Linked DNA regions of Homo sapiens: region 1 is linked to region 2. The links come from fine-mapping of genetic effects on gene expression. Tissue or cell type: neutrophils. Region 2 holds a variant in brackets; the other region holds the start of a gene. All regions are shown on one strand. Distances are from middle to middle.

Region 1 (5,000 bases), 55 kb before region 2:
GTTGTAACTGGCCAGAGAAAACTCTCTGCTTTAAAAGAGCTCATGTGATTAGGTCAAGCCCACTTGGATAATCTCCCTGTTTTAAGACCAACTGTGCTATATAATGTAATCTGATTATGAAAGTAAAATCCCTTATAGTCACAGCCTGGGGATTATGGAGAGTGTGTATATTCGGAGTGAGAAATCCCGGGGGACATCTTAGAATTCTGTCTACCACAATAGGTAAGAGTTAGACAAGCACTGATAGCTTTCTAGGTGGGAAAGAAATGTGGAGAAAAGCTCAAAAGTGAAACTCTACCAGGAATTTCTGGAGACTGTGAATATGTCAGTTTGTGACTGCTCTAATAATGATAATGGTTTCTTTTACTGAAGGTCTCCTAGGTGCTTTACAAATTCCCTTACATCAGCTCTGTGACGGTGCTATTATCCCACTTGCCGGAGTTATATCTCCATCAAGTTGTGAAGCTGGGGTTCTGGCTTGAGCTCTGGATGGCTCTGAATTTATGCTGTTTGCACTGTTTAACCTGCCTGTCTGTGGGTCTAAGGTGGGGAAGCTGAAGGCAGTAAGGTTGGTCTGGACCCAGATTGTGGAGGGCATTGGTGTTAACACATGCTAACAGGCACCAAGAAAGATTTTAGAGGGAGCCAGTGAATGTGGAAATCAGGGGGACGGAAATGGGTATGATTATGGATGTTGGGGAGCACATGGGCTGGATGTGCAATGTGATATTCTTTTTGGGAGGTTAATATGGCCAGTCAGGCATTAAAGATGATTACATGATCAAGCCTCTGAGTCTTCCTGCCAATCTGTAGGAAATATATAGTTCAGAAGAACAAGTTAAACTACACATAAATATACAATCAGCAAAGTGGGGACAGGGTGAGGATTTAACAAAATCATACACTTTTTGGGAGGCTATATATACTTTGGGAGGCCATTTATACTTTGGGAGGCCAAGGCAGGTGGATTTCTTGAGTCCAGGAGTTTGAGATCAGCCTGGACAACATGGCGAAACCTTGTCTCTATCAAAAATACAAAAATTAGCCGGGCGTGGTGGCATGCACCTGTGGTCCCAGCTACTTGGGATGCTGAGGTGGGAGAATCACCTGAGCCTGGGGAGGTCAAGGCTGCAGTGAGCCGAAATCACACCACTGCACTCCAGCCTGGACAATCGGAGTGAGACCCTATCTCAAAAAATAAAAACATAAATAAAAATAAATAAAATAAAATAATTTTTAAAATAAAAAAATCATATCGTTCCATCACTCAACTTTTTTTTTTTTGGACAGGGAGTCTCACTCTGTTGCTCAGGCTAGAGTGCAATGGCACGGTATCAGCTCACTGCAACCTCCACCTCCCAGGTTCAAGCAAGTCTCCTGTCTCAGCCTCCCGATTAGCTGGGATTACAGGCACCTGCCACCACACCTGGCTAATTTTTGTATTTTTAGTTGAGACGGGGTTTCACCAGGTTGGCCAGGCTGGTCTTGAACCCCTGACCTCAGGTGATCTGCCTGCCTCAGCCTCCCAAAATGCTGGGATTACAGGCGTGAGCCACCGTGCCTGGCCCCATCACCCAAATATTTATACTATTAACACAAAGTAATGGGCAGAGAAAACAGCTGTGGTGGTTGTGGTAGGACTAGACAAAAATTTTCATTTGATGTGAGAATCTTTTGCTTGGAGGCATTACTGAAAGTGTTTACCTCAGAATGGGAAAGCTTGGGCAAAAGCGAATTTGAAGTAAGTAAGACGTTTGGAAGATGTCTTTTTTTTTTTTTTTTTTTTTTTGAGACAGAGTCTTGCTCTGTCGCCCAGGATGGAGTGTAGTGGCGCGATCTCCGCTCACTGCAAGCTCCGCCTCCCGGGTTCACGCCATTGTCCTGCCTCAGCCTCATGAGTAACTGGGACTACAGGCGCCCGCCACCACGCCTGGCTATTTTTTTTGTATTTTTAGTAGATACGGGGTTTCACCGTGTTAGACAGGATGGCCTAGATCTCCTGACCTCGTGATCCGCCCGCCTCAGCCTCCCAAAGTGCTGGGATTACAGGCGTGAGCCATCGCGCCCGGCCTGGAAGATGTCTTATACAAAGCGTGAGGGAACTGGATAATTTGGTCTTACCTATCAAAATATAAAATGCATATACTTTTGCGTTTTTCTCTTTCCTGGTAGGCATTTGCGCTAGATAAATACACAGATGCACAGCACAGGGGTAAGTACAATTCATGCAGAATTGTTTTTTAATAGTGAAAACCAGGACCCAACCCAAGTCCATGAGTAGGAAATTGGTTCTGTAAATAGTTTTATTTCATGCAATGGAATATCATGCAGTCATTAAGAAGAATGAGGTAGACCTCTACCAGCAGTGAAAGATAAGGGCATTTTAATCAAGGGCAATCATACCTAGTTCCAGGAAAATGTTTATTAATCTCATTTAGTTAGAAAATATATATGTAGAAGTGAATCTATAGACAAGTCTAGAAGGCTACACACCCAGCTGTTAAACAGAATGTCTTTGAGGAGGGCAGGGGGCGGAGTCTGCGTTTACGTGAATGGGACGCTGCTGTTTCTCAGTGCACCTCTGCTGTTTGAATCTTTTACTAAAAACCTTCCCATGCATTGCTGGGAGGGAATGGAAGGAGTATTTTGAGGGTTTCGTGTGAAGGGAAAAGTTGAGGAGGGGACGTGGGAGACCCCTTGGTCTCATCAAACTCTAGCGCCGCTTGAGGTGAGGAGACCCCGCCCCGCTGAGGTGATTCTGCAGAGGGGCGGAGCCCCCCAGATCCGAGGCGGGAGGCGGCCCGGGGGCGGGACCAGCCGGCTCCAGCGGCCCGCTCCGCTCCCACCATGCCCTTATAAGGAGCGCCCGGCGTTAGGGCTCGGGAATCCGGTAGCAATCCCGGCGGCTCAGCCCCAATCCCAGGCCCCTCCCTTAGGAATGGGGGAGGGGCGGGGTTTGGCGGCGCGGTGGCTGGGGCGGAGCATCTCGAAAAGGGACCAGTAGGAGTGGCGGCCCAGGTCTGAGCTGCGCTGCCATTGGGCGCGGCGACGAGAGGGGGCGGGGAGCCCGTGAGGCTGGTTACGCCGAGGGAAGCCCCGACTCCGTAGTCGCTGCACAGTCTGTCTCTTCGCCGGTTCCCGGCCCCGTGGATCCTACTTCTCTGTCGCCCGCGGTTCGCCGCCCCGCTCGCCGCCGCGATGCCAGTGTTTCATACGCGCACGATCGAGAGCATCCTGGAGCCGGTGGCACAGCAGATCTCCCACCTGGTGATAATGCACGAGGAGGGCGAGGTGGACGGCAAAGCCATTCCTGACCTCACCGCGCCCGTGGCCGCCGTGCAGGCGGCCGTCAGCAACCTCGTCCGGGTGAGCGCGCAGGGCCTGGCGCGGGAGCGGGCGCGGGAGGTATCCCCGGGGCCCCGGCCCGCGTCGCGGCTGCCTGTGGCCGGCTCGCTGGCCGTGGCTTTCCGCGTGGGTTCCGGAGCCAGGCGCCGAGGGTTCGAATGGCCTCTTCTCCGCCCTGTGACCTTGAGCGAGTCCTGAGCCTCTCCGGGCCTCAGTGTCCTCATCTATAAAATGGGAGCAGTCATGAAAAAGGCTGCCTTGCGGGCTTGTCGTGAAGATATGGCGAGGTATTATTCGTGGAGTGCCTCGCGCGGCGTGTGGCCCACAGCAGACACCCAATAAATGAGAGTTGCTGGGATGTCCGAGGGTCCCTGCCCCGCGCAGGCTTCGCCCCCACGTTGACTTCCTCGCTCTCAGCGCCTTTTAGGCCTCCTCGATCTGGCTGTGCGGGGGAGGGAGAGCGGGCCTTCCCACGGATCCCTTGCCTTCTCTTCTAGGGATCCTTATTTGAGCCACGTTGTCCTCCTTTCTAATACTTCTGCCCCTCACCCTGAGACCCGCCTCGCCCACCCCCGCTCCCCAGAGCTCCCTGTATTCCGCCCTTTTATTCACTTGCCTCACTCTCTGTCGCCTCCTCCTCCCTCCTGGGCATTTTACTTATGCTCACTCCTCTGGCACTCTCACACCTTTATGCAGTCATTCGTGACCACAAGCCCGGTTTTTCCTTCCGCTCAGCCCTGCTGCCCTTCCTTTCATTCCCTCCTGTGGACATTTTCACCTGGCGTTACCTGCTGTCAAACGGCCTCCTCCCACTGGGGCCTTTCTAGACTCGGGGGCCCTCCTTGGCCCCTCCTCCTGGCAGGAAGCAAGATGGAGCTGTTGGGAGAGGCCTGTGGAATCTGGGATCTGCCGCCCCTGCCGGAGAGAAGGCTGGGGCATCCGCTCCCCATCCACAACTTTCCTGGTGGCTCTGCAGACCCCTGTAACCCACAGCTGTGACTCATAACCGAGGTGATTCCTGGAGGAGGTGGAGCCCACGTCTGAAATGGGAAAAAAGAGGTGCTGAGACCAGTCTCCCAAGACTCCCCTGGCTAATGTCACACTTTTCTTTCCCACCCTGGGTGGGTGACTCAGACTGGTCCTGCTTGTGAGGAACAATTTTGGAAAAAGTTCATACTGCTCCCCCACTGAGCTGTGTAAATAGTGTGTGTCAGGGCAGTTGGGCGGCAACTGTGGGTCTGTCTGGGTGGGGCTTGGGTTACTTTTCTGATTTGAGCACTTTAGTGCACTTAGAGGCTCTTTAGCAGCTGAAAGTCTTCCTCAGTCTTCAGGGGTCCCTGGACTGTCTCAAGCAATTTAGGAGACTGGTAGCTAGGAAGACAGGGTGACACCACCGACCAAATTCCTGATCTTTCTTCTCTATAGCTTTAGTAAGAATCTATTCATTCAGTAAGAATGCTGTATTCATTCACAATGTCTACTTGTACATTGTTCTTCTTTTTATAACTAATTTGAACAGAACACTCCAGAGTACATTCTTATGTAGTGTTGTCTAACATGGCTGCATTCCAGGCCTCCATTTTTCAACAAATAGGAAACAATGTAAAGAGACAAGGTAATAGTGTCTCTCCATGTAGTACTTCAGGAAATGAAAT
Region 2 (5,000 bases):
AAAAATTGTCATTGCTGTATACAGTGGAATTTCATTCTTATTTCTGCAATGGAGCAGAAATGAATAAGGAAGGCAATTCTTGGACCTGATCCAAGGATGTTCAGAACTGAATGGATCAAAAAGCATCACTTCTGAGGTGGTCTTGTGATATGAACTTGAAAAGGGCATGGTGTACATTATCTGTTGGCAGGCAAATGACAGCTTTCATTTCGAACTGGACAGTGTTGTCACTTTCTGCCTTAGTGCTGCTCTGACAGTCTGCTTGAAGTCAAAACTTGGATTGGTTCACCAGCTTGGACTATTTTTGAAGCATACTGTAATGTCTAGGCTTATTGAATAAAAGAATGTTCCCAAAATACCATGTGAAAGGATGTACTACTGCTACATGATTGCCATTATTCACATTTCTTGGGAATTCTTTGTTTTAACCCTTAAACTTTATTAGTTAAGAACAGTTATGGTATTTACTTATACAAATTTACCATAATTTATATTCATGCACAAAGAAGAAATTTGAGAAGGATTAAAATATGCTTTATACTTAATTTAGATCTCTTTTGACCTAAAGTAATGATGTCACATTTTTAGGTCATCAGGCCTTGTAGCTTTTTCTTTGCTTGTGATCTTGAACACTCAAAATAATTTGTGATGAAATTTGTATTTTTAAACACACTTGTGGGTGAAAGTGCCCAGAATATCTTTTTTTAACAATTAATTACTTAATCATATCACTTAATACCTTTTGTTTGCCTGGGGCTAATGTGTGATTTGTGTGTGTGTGTGTCCTGAGTTTTGTGGTCCTTTCCACTGCTACAGTATTAGAAGATTTTTGTCTCTTAATGTGGATGCCCAAGTTCTGTGATGTAATCATTGACCTCTGCCCACTGCCTTGCTGCATTTTTGACCTAGAGCAAGCACTCAAACTTTAAATAGTTCACCTTTGGACTTGCCACATTAAGCATAATTTAGTACTACTGTATTTTTTTTTTTTTTTTTTTTTTTTTGAGATGGAATCTCGCTCTGCTACCCAGGCTGGAGTGCAATGGCACCATCTCAGCTCATTGCAACCTCCACCTCCCAGGTTCAAGAGATTCTCCTGACTCAGCCTCCCGAGTAGCTGGGATTACAGGCATATGCCACCATGCCTGGTCAATTTTTGCATTTTTAGTAGAGATGGGTTACACCATGTTGGCCAGGCTGGTCTCGAACTCCTGGCCTCAAGTGATCCATTTGCCTCAGCCTCCCAAAATGCTGGCCTATCACTACTGTTTTTTGTTTGTTTGTTTGTTTGTTTTTTGTTTTAGACGGAGTCTTGCTCTGTCATCCAGGCTGGAGTGCAGTGGTGTGATCTCGGCTCACTGCAACCGCTGCCTCCTGGGTTCAAGCAATTCTCCCGCCTCAGCTTCCCGAGTAGCTGGGACTACAGGCACGCACCACCACGCCCAGCTAATTTTTGTATTTTTAGTAGAGATGGGATTTCAGCATGTTGGCCAGCCTGGTCTTGAGCTCTGCTCAATTTCTTAAATACCTTGTATGAGCTGGGTATTTTAAGTTGTGTTATTTAGTCCACTTCATTTTTCAGATGAAGAGAAGCTCAGTAAGGTGTTGAAAGTTACTCAGTTCATACATGGCAGAGGTAGGATTCTAACCCTGAACTGTTTGATTCCAAGTATGCTCATTCCAGTATGCTAAGGTACTTTCTCATTCTTCTTTACAATAGTCTCTTCTTCTAACATAATAGTTATTGTGAGGTTTAAATGAGTGAAATGATATATGTGAAAATACCTAAAACAAACAAAAAGAAACATTTGGTGATTATGTTGCAGGACAGGCAAACCCCAAAACTGAGGTTTATCCCAAGAGGGTTCTTGGCTTTTCCTAGGAAAGAATTCAAGAGCTAGCCAGTGGTGTTAGCAACTTTTATTGAAGCAGCAGTGTACAGCAGCAGCAGCAGCAGCAGCAGAGGCATTTCTGCTGGCGGAGCAGGGCTACCCTAGAGGCAGCGTGCCCAGAGTAGCAGCTCAGAGGCAGTTCTGCATTCATATTTATACCCACTTTTAATTATATTCTAATTAAGGGGTGATTTGTGCAGAAATTTCTAGAATGCAAGTGGTGGCTACTAGGTTGTTCAGTTGTTGCCATGGAAAGGGGCAGTAACGTCTGGGTGTTGCCGTGGCAATGGTAAGGTGACCTATCACCCTGGTGGGTGTGTCTTATGGGGAGGTGCTTTTACCCTGGACCTGCTTTAGCTAGTCCTCTATGTGGTCCAGTGTCCACGCCCTGCCTCTGGAATTGAGTACTGACTCCTACTTCAATTACATATTAGCTCCCTTCTATAGCTTCTTTTTTTTTCTTCTATAGCTTCTTAATTTTTGTTTCTTAATAATTTTCTCCAAATAAATGATTCAATTCTTCAGTTA[G/GT]TTTTTTTTTTTTTTTTTTTTGAGACGGAGTCTCACTCTGTAGCACAAGTTGGAGTGCAGTAGCGTGATCTCAGCTCACTGCAACCTCCCCCTCTAGGGCTCAAGCGATTCTCATGCCTCAGCCCCGCAAGTAGCTGGGACTACAGGTGTGCACCACTACTCCCAGCTGATTTTTTGTATTTTGGTAGAGAGGGGGTTTCACCATTTTGCCCAGGGTGGTCTCAAACTCCTGAGCGCAGGTGATCTGCTCACCTTGGCCTACCAAAGTGCTGAAATTACAGGCGTGAGCCACCGTGCTTGGCCCTTCAGTTACTTTTTAAGCTTTTCTCAGAGATATTTTTTATCTAATTTGTAGTCTTCTGTAGTAAGACTTTTTTTTTTTTGAATTGGACCATGATTACTTGTTTTTATTTAATGCCCTTTCTTTCTGTATCTGTTGAGTGGATTACACAATTTTTATCCTTTACTCTGTTGAGATAGTCTATGGTTTACTACATGAATATAGATTTGCTGATAATGAACCATTCTTGCATTTCTAGGATAAACCCTACCTGGCTGTGATGAAAAAAAAAAATATATATATATATATATATAGTGCTGAATTTAATTTGCTAATATTTTAAAAGGATTTTGCATTTTTGCTCATGAGGGACCTTTATCTGTAATTTTCTTTTCTTTTTATGTTCTTTTCTAGTTTGGGTATCAAAGTTATTTTAGCTTCATAAAATAAGGTCTTTTTCTAGTTTTTGAAACAGGTTATGTAAGATAAAGATTATCTGCTCTTGAAAGTTTGGCAAAACTTGCATCTAAAACTCCCTGTATCTGGTGGTGTCTTTGGGAGGAAGAGATATGACTAAAAAGAAACTCGCTCAGTTTTGTTTTATTATCTAAATCAGGTTCTAAATTCATTGTGAGTCAACTTTGGTAGTCTGATACTTTTCTAAGAAATTACCAATTTTATCCAACCTTCCAATTTATTAGCATAAAATTCATAATAATTATTCTTTTAAAAATCTCTGTTGTATCTAGTTATATCACATTTCCTATTCAGTATTGCTTATTTCTGCCTTTTGTCTTTTTTTCTTATCGCTCTTATTAGAGATTTATCTGTCTTACCAGCTTTTCCCACAAAGATCTATTTCATTAAATTCTTTTCTCATATTTATTATTTACTTTTCTCAAGTTTATTATTTGAATACCTTATTTTTAATATTTCAGTCTTTATGTTCAATCTTTCTTTTCTTTTTTCTTTTTTGAGATAGCGTCTTGCTTTGTCACCTGGGCTGTAGTGCAATGACATGATCTCGGCTCACTGCAACCTCTCCCTCCCGGGTTCAAGCGATTCTCCTGCCTCAGCCTCCCAAGTGGCTGGGATTACAGGTGCCCGCCACCATGCCTGGCTAATTTTTATATTTTTAGTAGAGACAGGGTTTCACTATGTTGGTAAGACTGGTCTCGAACTCCTGACCTCAGGTGATCCACTCACCTCCACCTCCCAAAGTGCTGGGACTACAGGCATGTACCACTTTAATTTTTAAATTAGAGAATTTAAAAATTCTTTAAAATTATTTTTTAAAGTTTTCAAAATTCTTTTTAATATCTTTTGTTATATTTCTAATATAATTGTATTGTACCCAAAGACATGGTTGGTATGATATCAATTCTTGGAAATTCTTTTGTTACATACAGCTCAGTTCTAGTGAGTTTTTATGTGTGCTTGAAAAGAAAGTATATTCTCTTTTGCTTGGGTATAGAGTTCTATTTATACTAATTAGGTCAGTATATAAATATTACTAGTCCAATTTTTTATAGCCTAATTTGTCTGTTTCAACTATCAGCTTATGATTGATATATGTTAAAAATCTCCTATACTAATTGTAGACCTGTCTGTTTTTCTTATAATTGTCAGTGTTAGCTCTACATATTTCAAAGCAATATTGTTAGGTGGTTACAAGTTTGTGATTCTTCTGGGTTCTGAATTCTGTTAATTATTTGTTGCTAATTATCTTTTTTTAGAATGACTGTTGATAGACGTTAGCCTGCTGTTGGCTTGTTTCTCCAGACTGTGTTCTTCTTCTTTTAATCTACATCCTAGTTTTTGCCAGTTTTCTTCATAAGTGAAAAATATCCTCTTATTGTATCTATCACTTCATTTTGTGTTTAGGTTGCCACGCCTGTAACTCTTTTATTACATTCTACTGTAGAACAGTGATTGCCTACTTTTTTTCAGCATAAGGACCTTTAAGTAATAATAGTGAAATTTTAGGCTGGGCGTGGTGGCTCACGCCTTTAATCCTAGCACTTCGGGAGGCCAGGGCAGGAGGATTACTTGAGGCCAGGAGTTCAAGACCAGTGTAGCCAACATGGTGAAATCCCGTCTCTACCAAAAATACAAAAATTAGCTGGGCGTGATGCTGCACACCTGTAGGCCCAGCTACTCGGGTGACTGAGGCAGGAGAACTGCTTGAGCCTGGGAGGTGGAGGTTGCAGTGAGCTGAGATCACGCCATTGCACTTCAGCCTGGGTGACAGAGCAAGACTATGTCTCAAAAAAAAACAAAAACAGAAAAACCAACAACAA

The links. PIP is the estimated chance that this variant, and not a neighbour inherited with it, causes the effect.
Region 1: VCL starts here. The variant in region 2 is fine-mapped to the expression of VCL in neutrophils (CEDAR, PIP 0.95).

The regions. Positions count from the first base shown.
Region 1 is chr10:73,995,010-74,000,009 of GRCh38, forward strand. It overlaps VCL (vinculin), which reads left to right and starts at 3,107. Exons shown (of 22, transcript NM_014000.3): 1 at 3,107-3,366. The coding sequence starts at 3,199. RefSeq lists silencers at 2,716-3,075, 3,406-3,455 and enhancers at 3,136-3,335, 3,408-4,059.
Region 2 is chr10:74,049,954-74,054,953 of GRCh38, forward strand. All of the region lies in intron 2 of VCL (vinculin), which reads left to right. Among named protein-coding and RNA genes, the nearest start is that of VCL, 54 kb to the left of the region's middle. The variant G/GT (reference allele first, on the strand shown) is at 2,421.